Regions from separate parts of the Homo sapiens genome. Here all the other regions are reported to be linked to region 4. Evidence: microRNA targets listed by miRTarBase, many of them from high-throughput screens and not tested one by one. Region 4 holds a microRNA gene; each other region holds the end of a gene's coding sequence.

The links. Region 4 holds the annotated microRNA hsa-miR-7-5p (UGGAAGACUAGUGAUUUUGUUGUU, at 2,222-2,245, shown strand). A microRNA usually pairs through its seed, bases 2 to 8, with sites in the 3' UTR of a target mRNA and lowers its output. Matches are read on the target gene's strand: a 7mer-m8 pairs with bases 2 to 8, a 7mer-A1 pairs with bases 2 to 7 and ends in A, and an 8mer does both.
Region 1: the mRNA of PFN2 is a reported target of hsa-miR-7-5p. Seed matches in the 3' UTR shown: 7mer-m8 at 1,987-1,993.
Region 2: the mRNA of EIF3L is a reported target of hsa-miR-7-5p. The part of its 3' UTR that is shown has no 7-base or 8-base seed match.
Region 3: miRTarBase lists NSD1 as a target of hsa-miR-7-5p. The part of its 3' UTR that is shown has no 7-base or 8-base seed match.

The regions. Positions count from the first base shown.
Region 1 is chr3:149,963,796-149,966,795 of GRCh38, forward strand. PFN2 (profilin 2) reads right to left here. Exons shown (of 3, transcript NM_053024.4): 3 at 1,109-2,791. The coding sequence ends at 2,694. Among named protein-coding and RNA genes, the nearest start is that of PFN2, 5.6 kb to the right of the region's middle.
Region 2 is chr22:37,887,808-37,890,959 of GRCh38, reverse strand. It overlaps EIF3L (eukaryotic translation initiation factor 3 subunit L), which reads right to left. Exons shown (of 13, transcript NM_016091.4): 13 at 1,553-2,534. The coding sequence ends at 2,496. Among named protein-coding and RNA genes, the nearest start is that of MICALL1, 17 kb to the left of the region's middle.
Region 3 is chr5:177,295,161-177,298,160 of GRCh38, forward strand. NSD1 (nuclear receptor binding SET domain protein 1) reads left to right here. Exons shown (of 23, transcript NM_022455.5): 23 at 1-3,000. The coding sequence ends at 299. Among named protein-coding and RNA genes, the nearest start is that of RAB24, 7.1 kb to the right of the region's middle. RefSeq lists enhancers at 540-1,041, 1,042-1,541.
Region 4 is chr19:4,768,479-4,771,649 of GRCh38, forward strand. MIR7-3 (microRNA 7-3) reads left to right here and starts at 2,192; the gene lies at 2,192-2,301. MIR7-3HG (MIR7-3 host gene) reads left to right here and starts at 627. Exons shown (of 3, transcript NR_027148.1): 1 at 627-873; 2 at 1,152-1,279. RefSeq lists a silencer at 1,059-1,353.

The sequences.
Region 1 (3,000 bases), not on the chromosome of region 4:
ACTCAACCACCAAATTTTCATTTGCCCCGTCTTTTGGCCTTAACAGGTCAAGAAACTGATACCAGGTTTTTATTATAGTTTTACAATTTCTAGGTTATGTCCAACTACCAAAATAGCCCCAAATCCTTTATCTCCCATATTTGTACATCCCTGTGTATGTACAACCATATTCACAACCAGTGCCTGACAACTAGTCAAAGAAAAAAAAACTTTCATTATGCATAGTATATTTTAAGACAGGTTAATTCCTATTCCCTAACCCATTTTTTCTCAAAAGGTAGCATATACACCACTTAAAATGAATCAGACTGACTCAGTGATTGTTTCTGAAAAGGGATTCCTGGGCTTATGGACTCTCCATCTCCAGAGTGGAACCCCAGAGTCCATAGTCTGCCTTATAACCAGCTCCCCAGTTTTACTGAGACCTACTAACTTTTGAGCACCCCTGGCTCTAAGCGTCCGCTTGACAGTTGTTGGTAATAATGATTTATGTAAATAGCCCTAAATTTACATATTTATCAAACTTCAATATATATCAGGGATTTTATGGCCTCTGGATTTAAACCTATTACACAGCCATGGTCAACATGTCACTACAAAGCCAAAAAATGCAAAAGCATCCCAATTATCTTATATGCTGCCTAAGGAATGTCTTCTGCTCTTATGTGGGAGGGCCCCAGCTGGCTGACTTCAGCCTGCCAACACAGCTTCCAAATCTAAAGTCATATGACATTTCAATACAGAAAAATCCACAATAGTGCAGAAACCCTTCTTGGTACTCCCTTTACTATTAGATTTCACATCTAGAAACCAGCAAGAAGAGGAAAATACTTATTTTCTAGCAGATAAGTCAGTTGCTTCTCACATACTCCTGAAGATGAGCCTGAAATGACTAAAAGCTATGTGTAACAGATCAGAGTCCATTAAAAAGAAATTCCCAGGCACTAATTTTATCTGTAATATTACTTGAAGTAGGCCATCACCTAATATTGCTGAAGTTTTATGCTTGCAGCAGACTTTGGCCTATTCTGTGTATTCCCACTTTGTCAAAAATCAACTTTTAACAGTTTATATAAACAATGTATATAAACAACAGGAGCCTAGAGTATTTGGTTGGAATAAATTTATTTCATCTGTCTGTAAACAAGGTGTTTAATAGTTATGGCATTTTTTTAAATGCATATTAAATCAGATGAGTTAGACTGTATCCCAGATGTAACAAAGTGCAGGGAAAGAAATGGACAAATCAGCAACAAGATTTGTTTTTAAATCTGTACATTATCCACAAGGCCCAAACAATAGAAGCAAATACTAGAATGTCCCTAAAGTAGTGCCATTCGAAAGAAACCCTTAATAGGTCAGTTAAAATCCATCTCACAATAGCAACAGTTCATTTTAACAATAGTATGGCACAGAATACATATGAAAAAAATTCATCACAAGACAGCCAAGTCCACAATAATGCAACTTCATATAAAAACTCAAGCTGCAAATAAAAATTGGTCCTATGAAGAACAAACTGGACACACTCCAGATGGTTATGTTGGGATACCTAATGTCCATAATGGCAGCCTTTTACAATTTTACTAAAGAGTAGAGCTGGTGTGCAAAGAAAAAGGAAGAAAAATCTGAGCTATTGCAATGATGGAATGTCCCTGGGGATTCAATCAGTATGGTTACTGTAAGGTCATGGGAGGAAGTGCTTTTTGCTCTTGTTTTGCCATTGCACTCTTCATATGTCCTGTAGACACTATGAATAAAGGTTTGTCTCTGCTCAAGTGCAACAACAATACTAAAAGCAAACTACTGCAGCTCTCAATAGCTCATCAACAAAAGGGATTTTAATTGGTTAAAAAAAAACAGGCACTGCATAAAAAAAGATGGAAGCAAACCAAATGCCTATGTGCGAAGGGAGGGGGGGCGGGAAAAAGAGAAGAGTGAAGGAATGATGCATGCACTTTTTCCTCCCAACCATGCGCTACAAAAGGAAGACTAAATGAGCCAAGTAAATGCTCAAAGTGCTGAAAAGACACTGATCAGAGATTGTACAACCGGCACCTTGCTTAATATTAACTTATTTTAGTAATCAATATCCCATTAATTGCTAAGACAAAGTGATGCCCAACTTGGCATGCCCCCTCCCCCCAATTTCAAGGTATCATGCAAATCATTATTGTGCTGCAATTATGTTGCCAGATAAGGGTTGGTTACATACAGTGGTTAACATACAAATGATCCATTGGGCAAACAGGAATCATGACATTAGAAAATAGGTAAAGAAAAATTAGCTACCATCTACAGTTTGGTAGCATTGTGACCATAATTAGGGTTGTTGATGAAGACAGTTGCTAGGTAGATGGGGAGAGGCTGCTTACACATCAGACCTCCTCAGGTATAAAGCGAGTTCATATGCTTTCTTGTTAAGTGTGCCTCCGTGGACACCTTCCTTTCCCATGACTATAACCAATGCTGGAGTACACAAGGAAACAAAACAAAAGTGAACAGAATTATTTTGGGGGGGGAGGGCAGAAAGAAAGACACCTTTCCCCACCAACAGAGGGATACAAAGGAGACACAGGTTCATACCCCATCACCCTGCATTGCTAATAAAATTTCCAGAATTAAGACTTAAGCTTATAGCTAGGAAAGTTTAAGAGCAATTTTCCCCTAATACTTAACAGTCTGCCTAGCAGCTAGAACCCAGAGTCTCTCAAGTATTTTGCCATTGAGTATGCCTTCTTATTCAATCCGCCTCCATGGACCCCTTCTTTTCCCATTACAAAGACCAAGACTGAAAGAGAAAGAAGAAAAGTGTTTCAAAAGAAGTGTTAATCAAGAAAGTCACATAAGTTTTAGCAGACAGAACCCGGATTAATAAGTTAACATTAAGTTAGTTTTCCATGAACTGCCAAGCACTGAAGTCAAGTAGGTTTCCAAAAAGAACTTTCAAACTAGTAATATACTAAACAGAAAATAGTAAACTTGACTGCATCTTGGAAG
Region 2 (3,152 bases), not on the chromosome of region 4:
CCATCTCAAAAACAAAAACAAAAACAAAACAAAGAAGGCCGGGCACTGTGGCTCATGCCTGTAATCCCAGCACTTTGGGAGGCCGAGATGGGTGATCATCTGAGGTCAGGAGTTTGAGACCCACCTGACCAACATGGTGAAACCCAGTCTCTACTGAAAATACAAAAAGCCAGGCGCAGTGGCTCACGCCTATAATCCCAGCACTTTGGGAGGCTGAGGCAGGCAGATCACCTGAGGTCAGGAGTTCGAGACTAGCCTGGCCAACATCGCGAAACCTCGTCTCTATTAAAACTACAAACATTAGCCAGGCGTGGTGGCGTGCACCTGTAGTCCCAGCTACTTGGGAGGCTGAGGCAGGAGAACCGCTTGAACCCCGGAGGCGGAGGTTGCAGTGAGCCGAGATCGCGCCATTGCACTCCAGCCTGGGCAATAAGATCAAAACTCTGTCTCAAAAAAATAAACAAAAATAAAAATACAAAAAATTAGCCAGGCATGGTGGCATGCAACTACTTGGGAGGCTGAGGTAGAATAGCTTGAACCTGGGAGGCAGACGTTGCAGTGAACAGAGATCGTGCCACTGCATGCCAGCCAAACAAATAAGGTCATGCTGATGGCATCCAGGGCTTAGGATATGGACATGTCTTCTTGGGAACCACCATTCAGTTCCCAATAATAATTATCAAACCAATGGGGAAAAAGAGCATACTGAAAAGCTTACGAATTCCAAGTGTGGGGAAACAGTAACTGAACATCCATTATAGGCCAGGCACTGCACTGGGCACTCAAAATAGCATTCTCATTTATTCGTCACCACTGCCCAGTGAGCCAGGTTCTGCTACACTTATTTTTTATTTTTTTTAGACGGAGTCTCGCTCTGTAACCCAGGCTGGGGTCCAGCGGCACGATCTCTTGGCTCACTGCAAGCTCCGCCTCCCGGGTTCACGCCATTCTCCTGCCTCAGCCTCCCGAGTAGCTGGGACTACAGGCGCCCGCCACCACGCCCGGCTAATTTTTTTGTATTTTTAATAGAGACAGGGTTTCGCCATGTTAGCCAGGATGGTCTCGATCTCCTTGACCTTGTGATCCGCCCGCCTCGGCCTCCCAGTGCTGGGATTACAGGCGTGAGCCACCGCGCCTGGCCTGCTAACCTTATTTTATATACAAGGAACCAGGCAGAGATGTGAGACAACTTGCAAGCAGGGGCTTCCAGTCCAAGTACCCACTATAGGGTGACAGGCATAGCATTAATACTGTGGGTAGGCAGGAAACCATTTAGCTCAGCTCCAGCAGCTGCCTAATGTGACCTTGATCAAGTCACTAACTACTGTGGGTTCATTTCCTCATCAATAAGATGAGGAACTACTACTAAACCTGAGTTGTAAGGTGTAAGTAATGTATATGGATCCCTCTTTGCACAGTTCCTGGCAGTAGGAGGTGTTCAATAGTTTCCTTCCAGGACCCAGCACTGCCACAAATATGTCATGAAAATTATAGGTCATTTAAAGTTCATAGGATCTTGTGACGCACAAACAAAATACTGAACGTGAAAATGTCCTGTAAACCAAATATACTGCTTTATGAACAAGAGGGATTTAAGAATTCAATTTAGGGCTGGGCACGGTGGCTCACGCCTGTAATCCCAGTACTTTAGGAGGCAGAGATGGGCAGATCACGAGGTCAGGAAATCTGAGACCATCCTGGCTAACACGGTGAAACCCCATCTCTACTAAAAAATACAAAAAATTGGCCGGGCATGGTGGCGGGTGCCTGTAGTCCCAGCTACTTGGGAGGCTGAGGCAGGAGAATGGCAGGAACCTGGGAGGTGGAGCTTGCAGTGAGCCGAGATCGCGCCAGTACACTCCAACCTGGGCGACAGAGTGAGACTCCGTCTAAAAAAAAACAAAAAGATTTTGAATTTAGGCGGGGCGTGGTGGCTCATGCCTGTAATCCTAGCACATTTTGGGAGGCCAAGGCAGGCGAATCACTTGAGGCCAGGAGTTCGAGACCAGCCTGGCCAACATGGTAAAACCCATCTCTACTGAGAATACAAAAATTAGCTGAGTGTGGTGGCACACGCCTGTAATCCCAGCTACTTGGAAGGCTGAGGCAGAACTGCTTGAACCTGGGCAGCGGAGGATGCAACGAACTGAGATCACGCTACTGCACTCCAGCCTGGGAGACAGAGTGAGACTCCATCTCAAAAGCACAAAATAAAAATAACTCAATTTAAACACTAACAACTGATGTATCCTGAAAGCATCAGGACACATGGGAAATGTATTACTGCCACAACCCACAAATTCTCTCCTACAATAATGAGACGACAAATCTGGCTCCAAAGATCCTTTACTGAGATCCACTTGAAACACTTCGGTCCTTAACTTGTTAACTGAGTTGACAGGCTGATGGCTGATCTAGGTAAAGGTTTCACGGTAGCAAAAACACTTCCTGCCTATAATACATCAAAACAGGTTCCTGAATGTGTGTGAATATCATCAAGGTCTCTGTCCCATCTTCTTCAGGGTTCGATTAAGCTAGAAGAGAAAGAAAAGCAAAGTTACATACGGGGATTTCCCCAACCCCTTTCCTACAGTGTGTATGATCACTAGGTCAGATTCCCAGCTGCCCCTCTGAAGCCAAGAAAGGAAGTTTCTGATGTGGGTGTCCACTATGTGTGTGCAAAGCCGTGACATTCATATGGCCCTGCACAGTTCACGCGGATTATTCTTTTATCTGCCCTTCACACTCAACAAACCCATACACAACACTGCTCTATCCATCTGACAGAAAAAGGATTCAGACTGGCCAGACGTTTCAAGGTTACTAGTTCAGTTAGGGGAAGAATGAGAAGCTTTGAACAGGATCCTTGTTAGAAGACAGCCCTAGCCCACCACCCTGACAGATGTGATCTAAACAGCCAGAAAGTAAAAAGAGCAGCAGGGCTGTTATGATCCTGCAGGAAGAGCCTGACCTCTGCTGGAGAACTCAAAGCACCAGGACACAGTAGCCCTAGCAATGGCCACAAAGAGAGACCCACACCCTTACAGTGTTTGGCCTGACCCACAAGACCTCTCCTAGGGCAAGACAAGGAATGCACCAAGTATGTCAAAACAGAGCTTCCTGTCCTCCAGCCTACAGGAACTAGCCAGACC
Region 3 (3,000 bases), not on the chromosome of region 4:
AATCTTTTAGGTCTCTCGGGAAGGCCCCAGCCTCCCTCCCCACTGAAGAAAAGAAGTTGGTAACCACAGAGCAAAGTCCCTGGGCCCTGGGAAAAGCCTCATCACGGGCAGGGCTCTGGCCCATAGTGGCTGGACAGACACTGGCACAGTCTTGCTGGTCTGCTGGGAGCACACAGACATTGGCACAGACTTGCTGGTCTCTTGGAAGAGGGCAAGACCCCAAACCAGAGCAAAATACACTTCCAGCTCTTAACCAGGCTCCTTCCAGTCACAAGTGTGCAGAATCAGAACAGAAGTAGTACCAATCAATGTCACATGAACAAACAAGCTGCCCCCAGGGTACCATTTGGGGAGGGGAAATCTTTTCTTTCTTTCCCCCTTAAAAAAAAACACATCTGCCCCGAACACTTTCCCACTGTTATTCTTTCCTCATATCCCAACACTCAGAACTCTTGTGACATTAGCCAGTGGGGGCTTATGGTTGTGTGAACCATGTATGAAAATCCAGTGGGCCCCAACCAAGGAGACAGACAGACTTGGGTCTCTTTCCCCCAACTTTTCCACATGGTCATCGTGAAATAAAAAGTCCACTCTGGAGTCAAGTATGGAATTCAATTCCGCTGGTCAGGTTGGAAGGTATAGGGGCTCTCAAAGCGATTTCCCCAACCAGACAGAGCCCCATTGAGGGCACCTAGGAACCCTTGGGAGGAAATGGTGTTCTTTCAAATCAGTGGCGATTTCCTGAGCATTCACGTGTTCTAGGCCGGGTGCTAGTCACTGATGAGAGATACAGGCCTCATCCCTGTGAGCCTGGATTCCAAGGCTTTCAGGAACCTTTGACCAGGAAGTAACAGGAAGTTCTGAGGGGCCCTGGGGCTTTAGACTCATTTTGAAATGTCCTTTGTGGCACCAGAAGTGGTTGTGTTGAGGAAGTGTCTCTTGGCTGCGGTGTGCATGGGTGCGTGTGCATGCGCGCACACTCACAGAGGTCTCCTCTATAGATGCAAGGGTGCTGCATTGAGGCCAGCAAGGCTGTTGGCTGTGGGGTCGCCGCTGCTGCTTTTGTCTGGGCTGTGCAGAGTCTCAAGATCAGTCCTTGGAGGAGCAGGTGGTCAGGGGCAGTCGGGCTCTGTGCGAATGTAGATTTCCAGCAGTGGAAGAAGGCATTTGGCAAGCTTCTCTTTCTTTGCTTTTGTTTCTACCTATTTTTCTCTTTGTACATGAATCCACCCCATCCCTATTTCCCTAAAACACTCAGGTGCTTTCAGATTTCAGAGCCTCGGGCAGTGGACATAGGGAATCTCTGGCAAGCTCTGAGCTAGACACACCAGCTTCAGGAAGAGTACCAGATCCTGATGGGAAATTTCTTTTCCCCATTCCTTTTCCCTCCTGAGTGGAGGGAGTCCTCTTCTTCGCCTCCCTGAGAATTGCTGTGCTCTGTATTGAGAGCACCTGCCTGCTGACTTAGCTCAAAGGCAAGCCAGAACCCTTCCCTGAAGACTGGCAAGAGGTGGTGTTTAGAGCAACGTCCAGGCTAAGAGATGACTCCTATTAACTGCTGATTATCTGTTACTGCTGCCCTGAGCTGGGGCCCAAGGGCTGGGAAATCTGTTGGTGCTACCCTGCCCTACCATTCACCCAGCTCACAGACTGCCAACAGGAAGTGCTGTTTGGCTAGTTTCCTCCCACTTGTCTACCCCTCCTTTGTCCTTAGACCAACATGTTTACCTCTCTGCTTTGCCAACTTAGCCAGCAGGCCATCCCCGGCCCTAACGTCTCCTGGCCATTATCTCTTAGTTATGGCTTTCACGCTCTCAATAGGATTCTGTATTTGGTCCCAATTTCCTCAAGTTCTTATTGAGGTTACTCCCATCAATTCCACGGAGGGAACAGTAGTTATTATAGAAGCATTTGCGCTTTATCTAAAGATTAAAAATAGAATCTGCTTTTATTTCCCAAAGTCTGTCTCTGAGGTTGAGACACTTGAACTCAGGCAGAGGGACGAGGCTGGGCAGGGCTGTCCTGAGTTTAGGGGCCTATCCCTGCATTTCACTGAGACCTCGGAATCTCCTCTGTGAATTCCACCTGCCTAGTTCTCCCCTTTCATCCTCTCTCTCTTCCCACATCATCAAAGAGGAAAAGCTCTTTGTTCAAAAGGAAGAGAAAACGTAAAGCATCTTATTTTCTTTTAAAAGAATTTTAAACCATGAAAAAGATATTTTTAAAGAAATTCACCGAGAACATTAAAGTTCATTATATTAAGTATTTATCATGTGTGAGAATAATAAATATATAACTGCAGCTAGTAGGTCCCTTTCCCTAATCTTTTAGGTCATATGAGTAGGGTTTGCTTGGTGCCAGTCCTGTGCCCTTTTCTCTCCAGTCATCTGTAGTTGTGATCAGAAAAAGGTATCTGCACTGCACTGTCAGAGTCTCCTTTCACTATGTTGTGTGTTAAATTACCGTAGCTCTTTGTTTCATGAAATAAACTGTGAATTTGGGGGGGGCGGGGGGAGGGCGTGCAGGCCATGTAAAAATTTTCCGTGGAGAAGTTTGATTCTAAAGTAGCTTCTCTAAAGTAGGCTTTGGTAGGTAATCAACTTGACAGCAGTCTAGATGTCTCACAGGACAGGAGGGAGTGAGGGAAAGGGGCCATGATTGGCTGCTTTGTGGTTTTATTTTGGTTCTTTCCATTCTCCGCCATTCATTGGAGGCTTCGTTCCAGACCTGCCTGGGAAAACAGCTTCTGAGCCATTTTGGGGAGCAGTTCTTCATCTGAATGGATGGACATCTGGGCTTCCTTCAAGGGCCATTGAATGGGAACTAGAAAACCACTGGAAACTAGAAATTTGAGCTATTGGGCCCACCAGTAGCAGCATGTGATACTAGATGGTTAAAATCATGAAAGCAGTCACTATCCAATTAGAAGCAGAGTCACAACAACTGTTGGGAAATGTGACTCTTGGAGGAAGGTGGGGAGGGAGTGGCCTTGCCAGCCCT
Region 4 (3,171 bases):
AGTTGCAAAAACTGAGGCACAACTGTGCCCAATGTCCCAAAGGAAGGAGAAGAAAAATCTGAACTTGAACCCCAGTTTCTTCGTTTTTTGGTTCAGAGCCTGCCCAGTATAGCACTACAATAAGCTGAATTTTATAAATTGGGTTTTGAGTTAAGGAATCAAAAGCTTCAGGCTTAAGTCCCACCTCTGCCCCAGAGTCTTCTGAGCCCTCCATTTTCACAGACGTCAGTTGCCCTAGGTGGAACTGGACTTTAATATTCTCCACATCCCTTATTTTTTCCCAAAACAGTTTACCAGCTTTTTCTTTCCTGAACCAGGAGCAATAGCAAAAATTGGGAATGGGAAGAAACAGGTACCAGCCAGGACACCTGAACGAACTTGGAGCTCAGGAACCCAGGAGGGGATTGGAGAGAGTGGGGAGACTCCATGGTCCACAATGAATGCTCCTTCCCCATCCGAAAAAATCCCCTAGCCCAGTTTTTGGGCAGATGCCAGACTTTTATTCTGAAGCGTGGGCCACAACCTATGAGGTAATCTTTGGAGCTTCATTCTGAGGCGGAATCCCATTGGCCAGTTGGGGAAGCCCCTCCCAGGATTCCTGGCGCTCCGCCTTCCCTGAAGCCTATAAAAGCGCAGGTCCCCGCCTCGGCAGCCACGGGACACCTGCATCTGCCAACAAGACTGGAAGCAGGTGAGGCACACAGAGGGGGAGGCCCGCAGCTGCGTGGGAGGAGGGGTGGTCTGAGGGACGTGGGATGCCGGGAATGAGGCTGGTTTGCAGGTTGGCGCATGGACATTTTCCCAGAAAGGGACAGAGACGGCGAAGTTTGACGGTCTGGAAAGCAGAGACCAGCAGGGCTGACTGCTTGGGAGGTAAGTTCTGGGGACATGGTACAGGGTGAGGAGCAGGTATCAGTGCTAGTTGCGACCCCTCTGTGTCTCCCCCCCGCCACCCCATTGCCATTCTGAAGCTCCCCAGGAAGAAGCTAGGAGGGGAAATAAATTGAGTGGGGGTGGGGTTTCCCAAGAATCGGAGGAACCGAGAACGAAGAGGGGTGGGGGAACGGGGAAAGAGAGAGGAAAATCAAGTTTTCTTCAGCACGAGGGACAGCTCTCCACCGACCGAAGGAGGAGAATGCTATTTATTTCAGCACCAAATATCCGGACAGCGCCTCTCGGGAGGTCCGAGAAGAGAACCGCGATCTGTTTCAGCACCGGGGCTCAGGACAGTTCCCAGCGGGCTCCGTTTCGTCTCCAGAACCCTGGACAGCTCCTCCAGGTAACGGGAGAGCCCTTTGACCCTGATTTTGCAGGGGGAGGACGAGAGAGGGTGGTCTGAGGTGCCTGGCATTTCTGGAGACCTGCACCTCATGTAATGGATTTTTAAACAAAGTATTTTCCAGATAAGCACACACAGAAGTCTGCAATTTTCTTTTTTTTTCGAGACGGAGTCTTGCTCTGTCGCCCAGGCTGGAGTGCAGTGGCACGATCTCGGCTCACTGCAACCTCTGCCTCCTGGGTTCAAGGGATTCTCCTGCCTCAGCCTCCCGAGTATCTGGGATTACAGGCACATGCCACCACTCCCGGCTAATTTTTGTATTCTTAGTAGAGACGGGGTTTCACCATGTTGGCCAGGCTGGTCTCAAACTCTTGACCTCTTCATCCGTCCACCTCAGCCTCCCAAAGTGCTAGGATTACAGGCGTGAGTCACTGCGCCTGGCCCAAGTCCGGAATTTTCAACAGGTAAGATACCTCACTGGGGTAACAGCTGCCTGCTAAGATGACATTATGGTGTCTCTTCCAGACTTCGGTGAGAAACCTTGTGCCAAGCATTTTACATACATCATATCATGCCATCTTCAACCCTAGGACATGGGTGTTACTGTGCCCATGTGACATTTGGGGAACCCAAGGCCCTGAGAAAGGCAGAAAAATAACCCACGCAGGGACTCTCAGCCCACAAGTGAAGCTGTAAGTCAACCCCACCAGTCCAACTCCAAATCCCATGTCTCTGACGTGCCTGGGTGGGAGGTGGGCCCTTGGAGATCAGACCCTGCTTCTCTCCAGGAGAACCGGGAATGGAAAACAGGGAGGCAGCACAGAGGCAGGAAACTCAGGTGTCATAGCTTGGCTCAGGTGAGAAGGAGGAGCTGGGCAGGGGTCTCAGACATGGGGCAGAGGGTGGTGAAGAAGATTAGAGTGGCTGTGGTCTAGTGCTGTGTGGAAGACTAGTGATTTTGTTGTTCTGATGTACTACGACAACAAGTCACAGCCGGCCTCATAGCGCAGACTCCCTTCGACCTTCGCCTTCAATGGGCTGGCCAGTGGGGGAGAACCGGGGAGGTCGGGGAAGAATCGCTTCCACTCGGAGTGGGGGGGCTGGCTCACTCCAGGCGATACAGGCACAGGCAAAGGAGGGAAGCAAACAAGGACATACATCCTGTGCTCATACAGCCATGCACCATGTATGGGGTTTGTCACATCACTCGTACGCCCCCACAAGCCTGGAGATAGAACATACCTGACTCTAAACCCAAGACCTCTAACCACCTTATGGCGCTTTCCTGGGAGACCCAATGAGGGAATGACATTTAAAGCCCTCCCTAGACCAGAGTTCTCAGGGTACTTTTCTATTAAAAAAAAAATTATTATTTTTTTGGCCGGGTGGCTCACGCCTGTCATCCCAGCACTTTGGGAGGCCAAGGCAGGTGGACCACTTGAGGCCAGGAGTTCAAGACCAGCCTGGACAACATGGTGAAACTCCATTTCTCCTAAAAATACAAAAATTAGCTGGGCGTTGTGGCACACACCTGTAGTCCCAGCTACTCGGGAGGCTGAGGCATGGGAATCCCTTGAACCCAGGAGGCAGAGGCTGCATGACCCAAGATTGCACCACTGCACTCCAGCCTGGGCAACAGAGAGAGATTCTGTCTCAAAAAACATTTTTTTTTTCTTTTTTGTAAAGACATGGTCTCCTGCCTCAGCCTCTCAAAGTGCCAAGATTACAGGTGTGAGCCACCGAACCCAGCCTAAGGATACTTTTCAATAAAAGTTCCAGAAGTGGGCTGGGTGTGGGAGCTCATACCTGTAATCCTAACATTTTGGGAGGATGAGATGGGAGGATTGCTTGAGTACAGGAGTTTGAGACCAGCCTGGGCAATATAGTGAGAC